Regions from separate parts of the Homo sapiens genome. Here region 2 is linked to region 1. The links come from fine-mapping of genetic effects on gene expression. A gene starts in region 1. The other region holds a variant in brackets. All regions are shown on one strand. Distances are between the middles of the regions.

The links.
Region 2: its variant is fine-mapped to the expression of ESM1 in skeletal muscle (GTEx, PIP 0.96).

Annotation. Positions count from the first base shown.
Region 1 is chr5:54,979,932-54,990,160 of GRCh38, reverse strand. It overlaps ESM1 (endothelial cell specific molecule 1), which reads left to right and starts at 4,568. Exons shown (of 3, transcript NM_007036.5): 1 at 4,568-4,944; 2 at 8,015-8,164. The coding sequence starts at 4,644.
Region 2 is chr5:55,020,862-55,031,090 of GRCh38, reverse strand. It overlaps GZMK (granzyme K), which reads right to left and starts at 6,835. Exons shown (of 5, transcript NM_002104.3): 1 at 6,705-6,835; 2 at 6,284-6,431; 3 at 507-657. The coding sequence starts at 6,768. LOC102467081 (a long non-coding RNA gene) reads left to right here and starts at 6,922. Exons shown (of 3, transcript NR_104662.1): 1 at 6,922-7,162; 2 at 8,379-8,463; 3 at 9,569-9,792. The variant G/C (reference allele first, on the strand shown) is at 4,443.

The sequences.
Region 1 (10,229 bases):
CTCCATTGGAGTAAAAATCTGGATATAGTGCCAAGTTCTCTGAGAGGTGCCCAGACATTCTGGGTTTGTAGCAGACACTGCGGGTGTCCTGTCCTTATCTTCTTGCAGTCACTCACACACCCTCACACTCAGGGCTCCTGCAGAGCTCTGTGTGATGGCACCCCAGCTGCCTACGAGGTTGACCTGCTCATCAAGACAAATCAGAGAGCCCCCATATGGGCAAGAAGCCTAATTAAAGCAGATGCATTTCACTTTGCTCTTCTAAGCAGGTGTAGTTTTTGAAAATTGCCTGTAAATCATATATTGGTACATTCAATTCCACTTTGCTATTAAAATTGTCTTTATTAAAAATAGAAACTTAAAGAATTAGAGAGATTTCTTTTGGGAAAATATTTGCTCCAAGACATAAGATCACATTTAAAGAATGAAGCCAATCTTCAGAAATCAGACGCTTGATAATAATAGTCACGATGGTTTCATATCTGTTGCCCTGTTTGGCCCTCTTATTATTGAGGTACTGAGGAGAAAGGAGAGGTCTAAGGTATGTGGCATGTGACTTGCCTAAGATCACATATCTTGGCAGTGGTAAAGCTGTTTCTAGGCAAACTGTACTCAGGGCAGGAGGCTCTGGGAAGATTCCTCAGGCCCTGGGCTTTGACAGCTGACCTGTGACTGCCGTGAATCCCAGCCAGTTTGGCAGAAGTATTTCACCAAGTTCTATTGGCTATGAGGGGCTCCCATGAACTTTCCAGGGTGGATGTGATATTGCCAAGCCCAAGGTCAACAGGACAAATTTGGTTAGCTGTGAAGGAACTGCCGCAATGGGACTACAGTCTTTGCTCAGGCTCCATCCAATCCTCGATGTCTCTTGGATTGGATGTGCTGTTTCTTGACACCTCTACCTCATTCCCACAAGTAAACACATTCTGCAGCTTAACCTAGCCTGCCCTAGAATCTGGGCCTCACTTTGCTTCTCCTGGTGGAAAGAGAAAGAAAGGGAACACATTGATGCCCGTTTAACTTACTATCATCTGAAGATGATTCTGGGAAACAGTTGGTTCCTTTTATGTGTTTATTAAGTATTAAGCTCCTGCTGTGGGCTAGACCTTGCAGTAGGCACATGCAAAATTGCTATCAGCTAGTGTCAAAGCAGGAAGACTTTCAGATGGTATCAAAAACCACAACCAAAACTAACCTAAAAACCAAATCACCTAAAATCTGCATGTAAATGTCTCCACTTGCTCCTCCAAACTTTATGCCCTCAAGTCTGCCTTTGTAATTCAATTTAAACCAGACTTCTCTGGTAGAGCTGGTTTGTTAGGAAGGCACAGTAAGTACGGTATAATTCGCTTTACCATAAACCACCTTCTGAGAGTCTGGGATCTGCCCAGAGCCTTTCCACTGGACTACTTTTACCTATCCAGAAAAAAATCCTTGTTATTTGGTTAGAAGCAATCATAATGTACAAAATAAACACAAAATATTAATGCACATTACCAAAGCTTATTTTCCTAACACAATACCAGCTTTAAGAAAAAAATCAAAGTGGCATTTTAAGTATACAGGGTATACTGGGTTAAATAGATATTTGGTTTTATCATTTCTCTGCCCCCATTGCAAAACACCATATGCTGCAACATTTGGATCCACAGATGGTATGGTTTGACCCACCTTAGTTTGAACTTACATTTTAGGAGTTGTGAAAATCTTGTGCAATTCCTCTTGCCCTTTCTCACTCTGACTTGACAACTGATATACAGGCAGAGCAAGATGAGAGATGTTCCAGTCCCCAGCACAAAGCAAGTGAAATGGGTGGACCTCATGCACTCACTATCAACAGCTCTGCCATCATCTTATTGCTTTTTAATGCAGCTTAGAGTTGGCTCCTTGGTTGCTCGTGCTCCCATTTCCTAACCCTTTGTGGTCATTGCTAACTTTCCTAATGGAATTCATTGATCTGGGCTCAAGGCTCTGGGGAAGACAGAAATCACTAGATAAAAATCTTACAGGGATTGTGTTGGGACAAATGGTTTTTGTTGGGTCTTGGAGGGATTGAAGGTTCCCCTAAAATGAGTTGTTAGGCACTGTGTATTGAGATAGTTCCACCACTGGTGAACTCTATTGGGCATATTTTCTGCACTTACCTGTGCATTGTAGTTTGGTTTACTATTTGGATTTGGTACTCTCAACTTACATTTGTTTAGTTGTCATTTACTGAAGGTATTATCAATTTGGTTTCCCTTTATCTTCCATAGTGGAAGAGTTTCATGTCTTTATGTGCTATTCAGGAGGACGAAATCCACTCCATTCCTTCTGTATTACATCTAGTATAGCTTACCATGTCACCCACCTTGGGCACCTGTTTGGCACCTGTATGTATTTGATTTTACAATCCTTAATCCAGTCTCCAGAGCTTGTTGGTCTCAGGGCTGGAGTCCTGGCTTCACCATTTGCTAACTGTGTGATGATGGACAAGTTACTTACCCTCTCTAGGCCTCAGTTTTCTCATATCTAAGATGGGGATAAGAATAGCACCTAGCTCTTGAGGTTGTTTTGAAAGTTAAATGTGGTAATCTACATAAACTGCTTAGCATGGCATCTGGCACACAGTCAGATCTCTGTAAAGGTTAGATATTATTATTAACCACTATTCCAGTTAACTACTCCTCAGAAAGTGGTGTTCAGTAACAAGGGACATTTTCTAGGGTCAGCCTAAATTGCGACCTAGGCCATTGGAACTATTGGCCATGAAAGCACAATTATGTATTGTAATAGGCAATAGAATATGTGGCTCTGACATTAGACTAACATCCATCCCTTCAATATAGGGACCTTAGGCAAATTAACCTCTTTCTTACTCAGTTTCTTCTTTTAAAAAATAAGCATGATAATAGCAGCCACTTCATAATATTGTGATGAGGTGCAAATGAGTTAATGCATGTAAAGTGTTTAAGCTATTAACTCAACAAATATTACCCATTACTGAAAACATCAGAGTGTGCCACCTGCTAAGTAAGTGCTTCTGGGGAGATAGAGTATTTCAAATTGGATTGTCATGAAAAATTTGGAAAATTTGAAAGCTAAAACTCTTGCTTTCATTTCCTACTGCCTCAATTCTCTGTATTCTGAATTTACTCCCTGTGTCCCCCTAAAATTGCATTTGCAAAAGCCGATCTTCAAGTTACATCCAATGCCCGCTCTGCCTCATCTTCTATGGGAAACAAGAATTTTAGAGGTCAGGTAGCCTAACACCATCAATTCTCAAAAGAGGAAGCTGAGGCCAAGAGAAGTCCTGTGAATTTCTTACAGCTCATTTGTGACAGACCAAGAATTACCCACTTTACTGGGTTGTTATTTACTAAGTGACAGTGAGTCTATATCTCTTTTGACAAGTGAGGTGGGGGCATGGAATTCGGCATGTGGTTGGTGTAAGAACTCCCCTCTCTCCTCTTTAACCTTACTTAATAAGACCCTGGCACAGTTGATATTTTAAGAGGGCTACTCTGTTTTCCCAGAGGGACCTAGGCACGGTAACCCTCTTAGCATGCAGACCTTGTTTCCTGAGGGGTAATGTTTCCCTTCCCTGTGACTTGTTTCTTGGGGGCTGTGTTCTGATTTTCCTGCTGAGCCACTTGTTGCCTTGGGCTGGCTGCCGCGCTTGGCAGTTTTTAGTGAGGGCTCTGATAGATGCCAGGAGGTGAGGGGAAGGGCTCTGGGTGGACTCCGTCATTGGACAAGCAGACTTAGTGATGGATGAGCCTTCCCCTGAGGAAGTTTTGGATCAGAAGTCCAACTGATAAGTTTTTCCAGAATTGAGTAACCCAGAAGCAGTGCCGAAAGGATCTTACCTCTCTTGTGGCTTTTTGTATTGATTTTAAAAGAAATTCTCAGAGGCAGTTCCACATTGTACTGGAAGCACAGCTATATCCACAATAGGCTTAGATATATGTAACATGAATTGCTTTAGAAATAACATTTGAGGAGAGGGGTGAGAGGAAGGAAGAGAGGGTCTTAAAAAATAGCCCTATCAAAATATTTTCTTTCTTCTAAGTATTGAAAAGACACAATATAACCCTTTCTTCTTTCAAATGATCTCATAGCTATTTGTTGAGGGGAAATACCAAATGTTTATTATTTTTTTTGAAGAAGCTTCTTCGGTCCTGATGATTCATGTTGATATCATTTTCCTCCTGACTACAGAGGCTCTGAGACAAAGCTACACCTCAAGTGATATGCCAGGGTCAGAACAATTCCCGTCCTGAAGGAGGGTGTGCAACCTTCTTTATCCCTCCTTCACAGACGTCCTTGAGCCCTTGAGACGGATGTGAGTGAGTTTTTCAGTCCTCATGCAAAACAACCATCTAAACATAACAGATGACATCAGCTTGGGCTTTTCAATTCCTGGATGGCAGCAGCGTGTTAATCCAGCCTTCATCCTGGATTTCATAAACCAAAACAAGAGAGCCTGGCAGGAGGACAGCGCTGCTGCTGGGTTGAGGAAATTGATGACGGGAAAGCATGCGGGCAACCCAGTGTATAAAACTCATAAACGTGTAGGCAGAGGCTCAGCTACCAGTTTGGACGGCTGCTTCCCACCAGCAAAGACCACGACTGGAGAGCCGAGCCGGAGGCAGCTGGGAAACATGAAGAGCGTCTTGCTGCTGACCACGCTCCTCGTGCCTGCACACCTGGTGGCCGCCTGGAGCAATAATTATGCGGTGGACTGCCCTCAACACTGTGACAGCAGTGAGTGCAAAAGCAGCCCGCGCTGCAAGAGGACAGTGCTCGACGACTGTGGCTGCTGCCGAGTGTGCGCTGCAGGGCGGGGAGAAACTTGCTACCGCACAGTCTCAGGCATGGATGGCATGAAGTGTGGCCCGGGGCTGAGGTGTCAGCCTTCTAATGGGGAGGATCCTTTTGGTGAAGAGTTTGGTATCTGCAAAGGTAAAGAGTGACCCCTTACCTCTCCCCTCCCGGGGCATGCTGAGAGCTTTTAGCCAGCTTGGGAGGTGAGGTGGCTTTGCTCCTCAAGAGTAAGAGGGAAAAGGCAGGTGGATTCTTGACAAGGCACCACACAGGTATTGTCATGGGTAGAGACTGAAGGATAGCTCCAAGTAGCAACTGAAACCAGTGTGCAGGAAGGCACAGAAAGAAGTGTGGCATTTTACTCGTTGCCTTAGGAGATCGCAAAAAGAAAGCTGCAATGGAAGATTGTGTTGGCTCCTTTTCTGGAAAACTTTAGAAACTTGACAGGTAATCTGTTAAGGATGGCTTAGGTGCTCTCTCCTCTGCGAGGCAGCGATTACAAAGGTCTGCACTAGATAACCTCTTGGAATGGTTTCTAGCCCCCAGATTTAGTGATTCTTTGATCTTGAAAGGGTCCACAGGATGGAGGGCCACTCTCAAGATCAAATATTTCTGATAAACACAAATGCACTTTATGGAATAGAGTGAGCTTAAGTCATCTAACAAAATAACTCACTCTTCAAAGAGGGTCCCCTGAAGCATAAAACAAACCTCATCTGACTTTATAAAGGTTTTGGTCATCTGGAAAAATAGCAGATGGTGTTAAGACAAGGAAAAATAACAATAGAGAAAAATAAAAACTGGAAGTCTGTAAAGAATGAGGTTGACCACTTGTACACTTAAAGAAAAACTTCGTCGGTTGAAATTTTAGCTAAATAATGTAGTTAAGCATTTGTAGAATTTATTTTAAACATAGTAACTAGTTTAAAATATTTAACATTTTAAAAATGTTTAGAATAAAAAGAATGATGATTTAAAAATACTCTACGTATAGATATCTCATGATCTTATTATGAAGAGCTATTATTAAGAAGCAACACATGCTATAACCCCATCCATCAGTTGTGTAATACCAGGAAGCTTTCAAAATTATAAAAAGGACTGAGAAATTTCTAAATAATTATTATGTTTTATGTATTTAATACATTTTTTATGAATAATATTTATCCAGTATTGTGCTAATCTCATTAATTCTCCTACTTCTTAGACATATAATGTATAAATTAATCATCTTTTAATTTGCAAGACATACAAAATTAAAAAAACAAATTCTTAAAGTATTAGGAGAGTTTTATTTTTTGCTTAGTTTATTTTTGTTTATATACAATAAGAAATAGAATATTGAGAAAATATTTTGTTTGGTGAACACATATGCATGTTTCTTTCAACTGAATAGGATCTGTATATTTTGTAAATTATGGGGCTTATTGACCAAGAAAACAGTACTTCACATAAGGAAATTAGGGAGGAAGTGGTTAACACAATCATACTTATGATATAGCATGTATATGCAGTGGATTGCTTTTTCTCTTGGCATAATATGCCTTTGTACATGTGATTGTAAATGTACATTACATATGGGCAAAGAAACAAGCTGTGTGGCATCTGGAGTCTTTAGCACTGTAGTATTCTACTGAATGATCAAGATACTAAAAAGATCTTTAAGATTGCTTCTTTTGGCTTTCTTCAGGTTGCTGATGAATCTAGTTTTAAGCATTTTTCTCTCTGCTGGAAATAGGAGACTTTGTGAGCCTTAGCAACTCGAGATAGAGATAATACATTTGGCAATCATCTCCCTTCTTCAGCTTTTTAAAAGAACATCCACGTGAAAACTGTAAACTTCAGCTGCGTATCCAAATGTCTTCTAAATATTCAGATGTCTGTGAACATCTTGCCCAGATTAACAATCAGCAGCCAACACATATTTAATGAACACTTACTATCTGCCCAGCACTGTTCAGTACATCAGGGGATACACTAGAAGTATCTCTGGGAATTTGGCTAAAGTTTTAGTTTTCAATATCGCTGCAGGCACAGTCAAATCCTAATCCTGTGTGCTTTTCTGGAACAGGCCTTTGCAGGATCCCTTTTTAAGATCTCTTCTTCCCAGCAAAGAGAACAGTGTTCAAAACCAGGTTCCTCTGTGATCTGAACCATATTGAAAAGAGCACTCATAGATCTCTTTAAAAAAAGATAGCTCATTGATGATCTACTTGGTCAGTTAGTGGAGTATTAGACTGCTAGAGACTCAGATGGCTCACAATTTGTTCTTTACCCACCTGTGATTGTACATTTACAAGGTATTTTCACAACAAGAGAATATTCTATATCTATTCTGCTGGCTTTTAAAGGTTGGTTAGTCTACTGAGATGCTGTTTATCCTAAAAACAGCATTTTAAATAATTTTATGCATTTTAAATAAACGACTTTGTCCTCTTTATTTCAATGTAGGATGTTTTGGCATAAGTGTAAGCACTGGAGGTCTAAAAGCTTCTAGTTCTTGGTAGGTGTACAAACCCTCAGGGTGTATAAGCCCTGAGCTTTCTTGCTCATTTAGCATCTTGCATGTTAGCCTTGCAGAGGATTTTACTAGGGAGCCCTCTTAACTACTGAGGGAGTCAGGCAAGTTGTATGACATGCCGTTTCGACAAATAAGGAACTTGATAAGGGTTGGAGCAGATGGAAGATTGATTGCTTCATGGTGAGCTAGGATGATAGCTCTCTCCCTGGTTAGTTTGAAGCCCTTTCCTATACACTTAAAATAGTAAATTATCTGTGAATACAGTAGATTCAAAGATAGCATCACATTTTAAAAACTCTTTGAGGAGCTGATGCATATATGTCTGTTCAATTTCCCACCTTTGCTGAGCTGTTACAGAGGTCATCTGTGAGAATTTATTGGTATCTAAGCAGAACATCACCAGAATGAAGACTGGTCCAAGGAGACTGGCTGTGTGTAGCTGTCTTCAACTTAACTTTACATCACAACACTAAGCCCGAGGCATCCATTATCTGTTCTTAATGTGTGATTTCATATTTATGACTCAAAGTTTCAACTTTCAAATCCTGGGTTTGGAGAATTGGATTTTACTTTACAGTCAAGGTTCATGAGGTTGGTTCAAATCGCAAGGCTATGCACCCAGGGCTGTTAGGATGGAGACGTATTTACAACAAGCAGCGTCCTCTCCAACCTTTCCTTTGTCCCCAGACTGTCCCTACGGCACCTTCGGGATGGATTGCAGAGAGACCTGCAACTGCCAGTCAGGCATCTGTGACAGGGGGACGGGAAAATGCCTGAAATTCCCCTTCTTCCAATATTCAGTAACCAAGTCTTCCAACAGATTTGTTTCTCTCACGGGTAAGCACTGATTCTGGTATAAGCATTGGAAGAATAGTCTCATTTCAGTGTGAATAACTTAGAAAATATCTGTGAGTAGAATAAGATGTGGATTGGAATGATTTTATTTCCTTTGCTTTACTCAGGGGAACGGTGGGTGGTAGCTGAGTTTGGTTGCTGTTGCTGTTTTCTAAAAAGAGCCCATCAATAATTTTGAGGTTTACATATAATTTCTCATAAAGTTTACCTGGTTTAAATATGATTTATAGGAGGATAAATATGATTGATTACCAAAAATCTGTAATAAAAAATAACCAACTGAGATACACAAAGTTCTTTAAATTCTTCAGTGATCTGTTTTATATATTTACTAGACAAAACTATTTATCTCCCAACTTCACATAGAAAAAGTACTGTGAGGAATTTATTGGATAAGCTTTAAGAGTCAAGATAGAAAATATAGAACGTTTCTTTTTTTTAACCAAATGAAAGCATTTAAGTGTAATAATTCCAAGTGTGTGTTTTTATGGATTTTGGAGAGGATAAGAAATAGTATGTGATTGAAATTTTGGAAATGAATGAAACTGTAGTAATACGTGCTGCTTGTTAGTCCGTGTGTATTTCTTATACAGGTGTTAGAATGTGAGGAATACACAACCTATGAGATGGTGCTATGTACATATTTGTTTATTTTGTTGAATAGCTGGCCAGTACAGGAGAGTTCCATTAAACTGAAAGTAGCTCATTTAAAGCAACATACATCACTAAAGCTTAGGCCTCCATTGCACAGAATGGCGATTGTAGTTAATAATTCTTATATATTTCAAAATTGGTAAAATAATAAATTTTAAATGTTCCCATCACAAAAAATAAGTATATGAGGTGATGGATATGCTACTTAGTTTGAGTTCATCATTCCACAGTGGAGATATATATCAAAGTATCATATTGTACCCTAAATGTATACAATTATTATTTGTCAATTAAAAACTGTATTTAAAATTATAAAAAATAAATAAATAATAAGCCCAACATATAGTCACAGAGATGGCTAGTATCAACAAATGATATACTTTTTCCCACCACAACTATAAATAACAATTCAAGTCCATTTTATTTAGTTTTTGCTTTTGGTCTTTTGCATTTCAAGTTAATAAAATATAAACTATTTGGCAAAGGTGCTTGTTTTCTAATTTTACCTCCTTCTTATGTATGGGTCAACTAAACACATTAAAATGAAGCGGAAATATCGTGCTTTTAAGTGAATTATTAGTTTTAAGTATGGTGATGCCCATAACAATACTTACATTATAGGTTACACAAAAATATTTCCACATCAAAGTTAGGCATTGAGATTCTTATCAGAAATATTTGAAAAAAGCAGTCAGTTTCTCTCTTTTCTGACCTAGGGTATTTCCTTTCATTAGCTAAAGGTGCAACCAGCAAAAGATGATTTTTAGTGTGATCTTGGTAAACCTTAGTCAGGTTCAGGATGGAGAGCAGAAAACCCTAAGGACCTCTTGGGGAGGCTGCCTAGGGTTCTTTGTAGTCTACATGTGTCTTTGAGACTACATGAGACTTCCAGGTTCATGCACTGGAGTTTACAGGAGAAGGCTTGGGCTTCACTCCTGACACAGGCTTCACATCACCTCTGCACAAACCTGTTTGGGCCCAGCCTTTGAGAGCAGGCTAAATGGCTGCAAGCTTCACCAGCACTAGGACCCCCAGAGCACGAGCTTGTCTTCTCCAACTTTCCACCTGCTGGCTACAGCACTCTTGTCAAATGTGCTTCCTGTCCACAGTGTTCCACTTGGTGTTCTTTTTTTTGGCAGTGAGCTTCCCAAGTTGGGAATTCACAAGTAAGTTTTTGTGTACGAGGGTCTTGGGGGAGTAAGATCTGGAATGTTTCATGGACTTACACACATTCGTCTGCTGGGCCACGCTAATCTTCTTAAAGCATTCCACATCAGAATGTGCACTGCCAAAGCAAGCACACCTCACTACTCCTTGAAGTAGAAAATTTCATTTTAGCAAATTTCAAATATTACAAACTTTTCTCATATGTAGAGTGAGAAGTGTCTTTATG
Region 2 (10,229 bases), 41 kb before region 1:
TGTGTGGAATAACATCCATAGGTCATGACTTTGAGGGCTGGGCTGCTTCCTGCCGGATAGGACCCTTGAGTATGGTCTAGACCAAGTTCGGACTAAATTAAGTGTGGTCTAGACTAAGCTGTAACTCACTGCTGAGCCCCCGAAGTCACTTGGTTGGCTCTGTTGTATAAACAACTGTTGTATTTTTTTACTTGCTAATGAGAAAAGCATTTGGGAGAAAAGCTTTCAGTGTGGATCCTTGGGCCTGTTAAGATGTTCCCCTCCTACATATGTTGAGTATCAGAGTTGCTTTTCCTTGTATAAACACAGCCCTGGTGCATTTGTGATAAATTCTTGTTTCTTTCAAGACAGTATATGGAATAACATGGGCCCTTATAAAATATATCATAATCACCTCAAACATGGGGAGGGTGCTAGCAAAATGCATTTTGTAGGTGATTTAACTAATTGAGCCATCCTGTATAAAAATGTTGACAAAATAGAAGGAAGACAATGCTACTACCTACCTTAACCAGCATGATATCATTTGATTGAGGATCTGATGTAACTCTTGAGAATGGTATAAATTTTTTGATCTCCAGTGTTTGTTTGGAGGCCTCATTCTTTGAGAGAGAGTGTGCGCCTAAAACCACAGTGGGAGACTGGCCTTTGGTAAACCTAAAAAAAGCAAAGACAATGAAAGCAGCAGAATGATTTCCAAATCCCCCAGTGGGGAGTGGTGATGGTCGAGAGGGTTGTATACACAGAGAAACAAGGGCTATCTCCAAGGTAACCTGCCTAAGATTAGGTGGAGTGACAAAGGTCTTAGTGGAGCCCAGCATGAATTGATATTAAGGGCCAAATGACTTGCCCTTAATCCCACCCTAAACCAATTCCCTGGCATTGCAAAAGAATATCAGAACTTGTATCCAACTGGGGGAAGAAAAAGGAGTGAAATCCTAATTGACTTAGATCAAGTTTAAAACAAAATTATGTTCATTTATGTAAAAATAAAGCAAATTATATTCCTTGAGTTTGTAGTTTGAGATTTACACCAACTACCATTAAAATTTGTTTATTGTGGTAAAGTATACATAATGGTATAAGAATGGTAAAATTTACCATTTTAACCATTCTTTAATGTACAGTTTGGTGGTATGAAGGACATGTATATTGTTGTTCATCCACCACTATCATCTCCAGAACCCCAGAACTTTTTTTATCTTCCCAACATTAAGTGTTTTAATAATTAAGGTAGCCAGGTGTGGTGGCTCATGCCTGTAATCCCAGCCACTTGGGAGACTGAGGTGGGAGGATCATTTGAGGCCAGGAGTTTGAGAGAAACCTGGGCAATACAGTGAGACCCCCATCTCTAAAAAAACATTAAGGGGCACACTGGTGCATGCTGGGCATGGTGGTGCATGCCTACAGTCCCAGCTGTTTGAGAGGCTGAAGCAGGAGGGATTGCTTGAGTCCTGGAGCTGGAGGCTGAAGTGTCACAGCCTGGGTGACAGAACAAGGCCCCATCTCTTAAAAACAAACAAACAAACAAACAAACAAACAAACAAAAACCACAAAGATCCCCACCCTACACTTGCTCACCCACATGCCTAGACTTCATCTCAGGTCAATGTGGGGAAGTAAGGCCTATTACATGACAGTCAGATATGTCCATATGTCCTGTCCCCTCAATTAGAACAAAGATTTGGACAAGAAAGGAAAACTTTCCTCAAGGTAAGAAAACAGTGCTAATTTAAAATGAAGATACTTTAAGGTTAGTAGCCATTCCATCGGGGAGATTTAGAGGATACGAACTGGTGAGTGAGGTGAAGAAATAGGTTTGTTTTTTGGCTTTCTTTTTTAACGTTTTTTTTTTTGAGAAGGAGTCTTGCTCTGTTTCCCAGGCTGGAGTTCAGTGGCGCCATCTCGGCTCACAGCAACCTCCGCCTCCCAGGATCAAGCGATTCTCCTGCCTCAGCCTCCCGAGAGGCTGGGACTACAGGCTTGTGCCGCCACACCTGGCTAATTTTTGTATTTTTAGTAAAGACGGAATTTCATCATGTTGGCCAGGGTGGTCTCAATCTCCTGACCTCAGGTGATCTACTGGCCTCAGCCTCCCAAAGTGCTGGGATTACAGGCGTGAGTCTCTGTGCCTGGCAAGGTTTGCTTTTTAAATCTCTGGTCATACACAGTTCTAGTACCAGTGTTTCAACAGTGCCACAATTGATCTGATTTACTCTTTGTTGGATAAAATTACATTTACAGCAGTGATAAAGTAGAAATAATTTTTTGGAGATTTTGGCAGAACCGTAGAGCCATTTGTATACTACAGATACATTCCATTACAGTGTCTATCTTTATGAAGTCCACCTCAGATCTTTTAATTGTATTTGTTTGTTTACATGTAACTATTTCTTTGCTACTTGGAAAAGCTACCAAAGTAGATTGCAGTAAAAACACACATACTCATGCATATAGATTAATAAAGATTAATAAAAGTTACAAAGAGCACAGAAACATACAGAAAAAGGAAGACATGATTGTTTCAGATTTGAAAATGGCAAATGCCTGTGGTAGAGTGGGTTTGCTTATGGCAGAGCTGTGACTGCCTGGAATGACCACTTTTTGGTTTCTACCAAAAGAGTTTATTTTTATTTATTTTGGGAATTCCAGCTCTATTTGTTGAAAAGTTTGCCTATTGCAAAATCAGGACCGGGTGGAAATTTCTCATAGGATGTGGACTGGATTTCCTAGGATTGATTTGAATTCAAATTCAACATACCCACTAAACCCAAAACTTTGTAGGAGAAGGATGACATAAAAATCTTCAGGATGAATGCTCTAACAGAAAGGTGGGCACGTGCCTAAATGACTCACACAAAGAAGGCTATGAGGTACAAATGAGAGGTATGGAGGGTGGATTCTCACTAAGGGAGGGATGCTGAAAAAATGTCTGGGTTTCTTTCGTCTTTTACTAATTTACTCGGCTAGTTATTGCCTTTGAAATGTTTTGGTTATTTTTGTCTCCACTGGGACATGTTAAGACCAAAAACAACCCAAGCAGACCATTATTCCTTCTGACCTTTCAATTTCTAGATATCCTTCAACTGTAATCTGTGCTACTCAGGTCAAATTTTCTGCCCACAGGGTACCTGGAATTACTTGAGTTCTGGGATGCCACCTCCTTAGCTAAACTGAAGTCTGAATTCACACAAAGAGGAAGTAATAATGCCAGTGTTTTTCAGTTGCACAGCACAGGATTTCCCCAAATGCAGTCTTCAGACTTGCTTCAGAATCACCTGGAGGTGTTGGTTTAAAATGTGGTTTCCGGAGTCCCACCCTGAGCTTTCCTGGAAGAGATTCATATATGGAGCAGAACTACAGTGCGGCTTATAGTGGGTCTGCTGAAGACATCTGTAAACATTGTCTCCATTGAGCCTAACAATAACCTTTTTCAAGGCTGGTAAAGCTGACGGGCTGTGTATTCCTTACCAGTAAAAGATTGTTCTCTGACTGGTCCAAGGTGACACACCTCATAAATAGGGGAATCAGGACCCAAATTTGGCTTTTGGTGACTCCCAGTCCAGTGCTCTTTCCTCAATCCCTCTTTGAACCCCGTGCCAACCCCCTTCAAGCCTCTTCTTTTCTCTGCCAGCGCGCCTGGACACTCAACAGTGGTTCTGCTTAGACCCGCCCCTTGAGGTCTGGCAGCAAAGGCAGGGTCCCTATGTCTTGGAGATTTCTCTTGCCTAAGAGAGAGGGAGAAGAACTTGGCTGTCAGAGAGGGAGGTCTTCCCAGTCTTATCTCGTCAACATCAGATTAGTTCCTTGGTTATTACCATGGAAGGCACAGATAATTGTATAACAATACTCGATAACATCTATTAAGTTCTTTGTGTTCTGTGCTAAGCATTTTACAAAGCTTCCCTCATTTAAACCGCACAACAGCGTGGTGAGATAGGTATTATGACAATCCCCATTTTATAGATGAAGAAATTGAGGTTCAGGTAAACGAATAAACTTGAGGACCTTTGCCTCCAGGAGGCAAATTCGGGCAGGATTAAAGCTCAGTTGGCTTGAATCTAGAGCCTGAACATTGAACCATTTTGTTCCAGGAGCCTTGAGCATTTGAGATGGAGTGAGGCCATGTGGAAGGGGCTGTGGAAGGTTCCATCTAACAACTTGCTAGGCAGGTTGGGGCAGGAGGAAGTGCTCTGTGAGAGGGGCCTGGGAGAGAATCAGGAGAACAGGGTACAACAGCTGGTGAGAGTTTTGCTTCTGGTAAGTTAAAATGCTGAAAATAAGTTTGTACAGGACATTTTTTATCAATTTCCTTTTATATTTGACATGGCAACTAATAAAGGGGCCAGAATATTGAGGGAGGAGATGTGTGGATGGCTGGTGAGAAGGGAGCACTCCCAGGTTTGGCCCTCTTCAAAATTTTGCTGAGAGAGAGGCTTGGG[G/C]CAAACTATTCCCACAGGATACTGGGGAGTACATTTGTGGGAAGCCACCATTGAGCTATTTTGTAAATATTTTGAATTTCATAAAGCTTAATATTTTTCCAACCACCGATCTGCCTACTTTTTACACCCAAGTGTCCTGTAGAGGAAATTTGATCTACATATTTTGCAGTTCTTTATACCCCAGCCATTTAAAATGATATTTAGCAATAGTTTGTTTTAAGAAAAAAAAAACAAAACACAAAAAACTCCAAGACCTCTCTCCAGTCTTTTGTCAATAATCTCTTTCCCCAATTTGGGAATCCGCTTCTCGTGAGTTAAATCCACTTGACAAAATTTAAAATTCAACTTAGTGATATTATTTAATTTCCTATAACACTTTATGGCTAGTGAAGCACTTTTTCATACACCATGTTTCAGGCCTAGCCAAAGAAAGAAAGAAAGAAAGAAAGATCTTTCAGTGTATTTCTTTCTTTCCATCCAAAGTTTGTTGAACATTTAGAAGTCAAGCTCTGTGTCTGGGGAGGTTATAGACCATTTGAATGTGTATTATGAGCATATTTGAAGATGTGCATATTTTGCATCAAATGAACATTCGCTGACAGTTCCCCACTCTGTCTCTCTGATCTCGAGGGGGCAAATGCCCTGGAGAAGAGAGAAGTGATGGGGATGAGAGTGTGATTTCTATGAGGGCAAGAACCCTGTGTAAATGAAGTAACCATATTAAATTGGAAATCAGTGGCTTGCTATTTAGAGATAGCAGAAGATCTCCCAGTTTGCAGGCTTCAAAACTTCCAATTTGTGATCAAACAGTTCCATTTAAATGGGGTAATCAGACAAAACCCCCAAAGCATAGAAAAGCAAATCAATTCAATTGTTCTGTTTAGATATAGACAATGCCTGGAGAGCAAACCATTACAGCTAAGAGAGATCTTTAAGTGAAAGAAAAGGAGAAGGCTCCATTTCAGCTTATTAGGTAAGAAACATAAGGAAACATATATACAAACAAAAAACAAAACCAAAAACCCAAGCAAACAAACAAAACAACAAATACCAAATTAGTTTTCTACTGGCATTTCCTTTTGTGATGGTTGCAGCATCCCAAGAGGGGTTTTGTGCTTTATTAGCTGAAGTAAGAGAATCCTAGGCTGAAATGGACTTTGGAAGGTTTTACTCTGTCTTCAGAAAAGCTTTCATTCTAAGTATCCTAGAAAATAACTCTCTCATTATCTTTCTCTTTCTAGAAGTCATCAATAACTTGTTTTTTTCCACCTAGGAAAGTTGTAAGTGGTGAGTAGCTACTGTTAGGTAGCTACTGTTAGGAGTGGCAAAGTAGGCTTCTCATGCGTATAATACTAATGATAATAGCTGCAATTTTTTTGTGCTTACTAAATGTGCCAAGCATGCTAAAATACTTAAACAGATACTATTTAATTCTCAAAACCCACAAAGCAGGTATGATATGATTATTACCCCTTTGTAAAATGGGGAAGCTCAGAGCACAGAGCAAGCTCAGGTTGTCTGATTTCCTTTTGAGCAGTGTGATCTAACAAGGTCAAGAGTACTGCTGCTTCAAGTATTACTGTTGCTGTGTTCCCTGCATTATACAGAGGACTTGAATTTGTCTAATGTCTTGCCTGGGAAAAGCAGCTCAGTTCTCTCTGAAAAGGAAAACCCAAGACAGAAAGCGTGGATGTGGAAGAAGGTAAATAAACGCCACCAGTTGGTCAGTAACCACAGAAGCTAACAGTAGATCAAATTCTCATTCAGGAGAGGTAAGCTTCTCTTGTACCTATAATAACTTTCAGAAAAAACACATGTCTGGAAAAGTGTGGAGGACTCACCGATATTGGCAGTGGGCTGCTGTCAGCACCCACTGTGGATCAATCAGAACACCTCCACAAACGTGATGTCCGCCATACTGGATGGAGGCCATAAATGGCCTGGAATGAGGTGACACTTCTTTCCCTCCAATAATTTCCATATTGAAACCTACAAAAGTAGACCAAAAGGTTTCACACAAAAGATCTAAACTACTGTTTCATGTAATTCTTCCAATGACAGTCACTATATTATTTTCAAAGCTTAAAAAACAACAATAACCCTACCTAAAAGCTACAATAATTTTACTGATGAAAAATTTGTATAATACATTACAGTTCAGAAAGATAGGAATGATTGTGAAAATAATTTTCATCTATAATATAACAATATAGTCAGTAGAAATTCATTTAATGTTTACATGTAGATATAGGAGATACTTACACACATGAGTCATATAAGCCCCAACTATTAGGAAAAACAGAGAAAAGGAAGAAAACTTAGTCATTTTAAAGATTTAGATTTAAGAAGCCCAGATGAAATGTGTTGATCCTGTGATGAAGGAAGAAGATTCTGAAGACTGAGTTTTGTTCTTGTAAGTTTTGACTTTCTCACCACAGGTGCTCTAGGGGTAAGATTTTTTTTCACACCTAGGTGTAAACGTTATGTATCAGTTTGGGGACTTTCAGGTCTGTGCTTTTAGCACTTTTTTGTTTTGTTTTGTTTTGAGACGGAGTCTCTCTCTGTCGCCCAGGCTGGAGTGCAGTGGCGCGATCTCGGCTCACTGCAAGCTCTGCCTCCTGGGTTCACGCCATTCTCCTGCCTCAGCCTCCCGAGTAGCTGGGACTACAGGCGCCCACCACCACATCCGGCTAATTGCTTTTAGCACTTTTTTGGGAGAGGTATGTATGCCATAAAGAACTCATATCTGGAGATACCATCTCTAATACCTGTATCAGAGTACTTATGCTATAAAGAAAATTTATACTATATGTGTATATAATATTTATAAATGAAAAATATCCATGCCATAAGAATGTAATGAAGTTGCAGACAGAGTTCAAAGATGTCCATTGCTCTCAAGCAATACTTACTATTTTTCCTGGCACAAAATGGTGCCTATCATATTTCATTCTTCTCTCTTTTTCATTTGGACATAGATTTATGATGAAGAGAGACATGGACCTTGCACAGATTATGGTTACTTCACAATGTGGCTTAGCTAAAGCCTGAGCACCAACCAGAGAAAACCATATGTTTTGCAGCAAACATCCCTACTCATGTCGTTTCTCTAAGTTTGCCCAAATTTGGTTAAATTTTAGTTACATTTTTGTGAGATTTCATAATGTTGTTAAAGGTGAACATTGGCAACTATTTTTGATTCAGAGTCTCTCTTTTACTCATTTTTAATTGAAAATGGCCATGTGTTTTTCCAGGGACTTAATAATAATGTCTTTTAAAAATAAAGGACTGCATTTTGTAATTCTTCCCAGGAACAGATGACAATGCATTGCCAGGCCTTCAATACAAAAGGTATTAGACTCAAGATTCTACAAGATTCTGTTTGTGCCAGACACTGATCAGCAGTGCAAATATAAAATGAATACAAACAGATCACGCATCAGAATGCCAATCACTTCCTAGTAACACTGATCAAAATTTGCATTAAATCAACAGATCTTTCTTTTAAGAGGTATGCATTTTATCTTCCATTCATTTTAGAAAGGAGAATTAAAATCCAGAGCTATTATGCTCGGCAGATTGCAAGAGACTCCTTTCAAATTGTTTTCTAGCACAAAGAGTAGGAATAATAAAAAATAATACTATAATTATGTATTATTCATTATAACTTAATAATATATAAGTAAAATACCTTATTTCCAAAATTCTTTTTATATGATCATTTATGGTTTCATGTCTATGTCTTTGAGGAAAGCAGGACAACTTATGTTACAATGGAAGAAATAAGTTCCAAGAGGCTAAGTAATTTGCCCAAGGCAACACAGCTTATGACCTAGACCAAATCACCTGCCTGACCTCCCTGTATGTTAAGTTGTATGTGAATGAGTACCCTCCCAGAACACAGAATTTTATAAAAAACCTGCTTTCCTTGTACAGGTGTGTGGCAACAGTAAAGCTTTCTACATGTTAAACAGAATGAACAAAACCAACGCAGAGCAGTGACTTCCTGTCAGAGCAGAAGGTGAGATAAGGAGGAGCCAGATTAAGAAAAGCCACAAGCTTAATAAACCAAACTTATTACTCCCACTCAAATGTCCCTGTGAATTTTCAAGTCATCTTTGTCACTGTTGATGTACCTTGGATGCTCTACTGTGTGCCATTGTTCCACATTGGAAGGCAGACAGGATGGCGTCAGTTCCCTGCTACATCCCAGTGATGCTGGGATCGTAAGGAAGATGGTGTGTGACAGGTAGAAGTGATCCAAACTCTAAGGAAGAAATAAATTGTAAAGGACGAAGCTTTGTGTGTGTGTGTGTGTGTGTGTGTGGCGGGGGAAATGGGAATGGTTACAAACATCTCTCAGCTGCTTATTTCTGAGTAGTAAGGATTAATGTCCACATAGCGTTGTACAAATTGCTGAACGTTTTTAGCTGTATTTCCAGGGAAGTGGTTGTCATTAGTCTTGTTTTATGGATAAATAAACTGAAATTCAGGGACTTGCTTGAGATTACCGAGCTAGCAGGTGGCCCTTAAGCTCCTATGTGCTGGCTCCCGGCTCTATGTTCCTTTCAACCTGGCTACATGCCTGCCTCCTTTGAGAAGTCCCTGGGGGTTTAGGGGCTCTGAGACACAAGCTAGCTGTGCAGAAGAGAAAAAGGATTTAGCCATACACACTGCGTGTAATTAGACATGGGTGAGATTTAGTTCAGTTGGGAAGAGTCTCATAACTCTTTCTTGTAGCTGACCTAGAAAATTCTGAGAATCATGTTGGTTAATAGTAATGAGTTATTTGGTTTTGGCTTTAGACCGATTTGCCAGTTAATAGTATCATTTGTTATTATATTCACGATTCTGGATTTGAGAACAGTGGGCTGTGTAACATGATGAGCTCGGCGATCTAATTTATTTCTGGGTGTTGGTTTTTGTTCTGTTGAGTCTGCTGCAGGGAGGGCCATGTTTGCTTTGGATGGCTTTACAGCAACTGTACCGGACTGAGCAAGTGCAAGGCTGTGCTCAGAGGAGGGCTGGCTTCACACGTCATAGCCTTGTGGCTCTTCTTTGCTGTGTTTAGCTGTCTTTCTTGCTGCTCTTAGAGATGTTTTGTTTCTGCTTCTCCTGTGTTTCAGGAGACCCTTATAGAACAGCTGTGCCACTGCTCCAAAGGCCTCGTGTGGTTCTATCCCTTGGACTGCCTTTCTTCAACAGCCCAGACACCTGCTCTGTCAGATTTATAAGCCACACCCCCTAGAGCCATGCCAATCAAAGCATGGCCCGCAGACCTGTGCCAGTCTCCGAACCTCTTTGTTACCGATTTGGAGCAAGATGGGGACAGAAATTGAGAGCCAGAGTTTAGAAACTGTAACAGCGACTTAACATGGCACTGTATTAATTTATTTTATTAATGAAATAAAATTTGTCCAATCTAATAAAAATTGGGTGTGTATTTTGTATGCCTTTGTTTTTTATTTAATTACTTTTTTCTATTTATTTGTGTTGTATAAACGTATCAGTTCACAATGGGCTGAAACTAAAAACAAACAAATTAACAAACTAAAACTCCAAACACATTGGTCTTTCCCACAGGTAGTCTGAGAAACACTGCTCTGTAGACATAAGTGCAAAGCAGATTTGTTTCAAGCTCTTCCCATTTATTCCCTTTTACATTCCTTTGAAAAATGTTCTCAATATCAAGTTTTCCCAAGCTATCCAACCATCCCCAGCCCTTGGCACTTGACATCAGGATTTGGCAGAATTTCACTGGATCCCTCCCTTGTAGCCCACCACCCT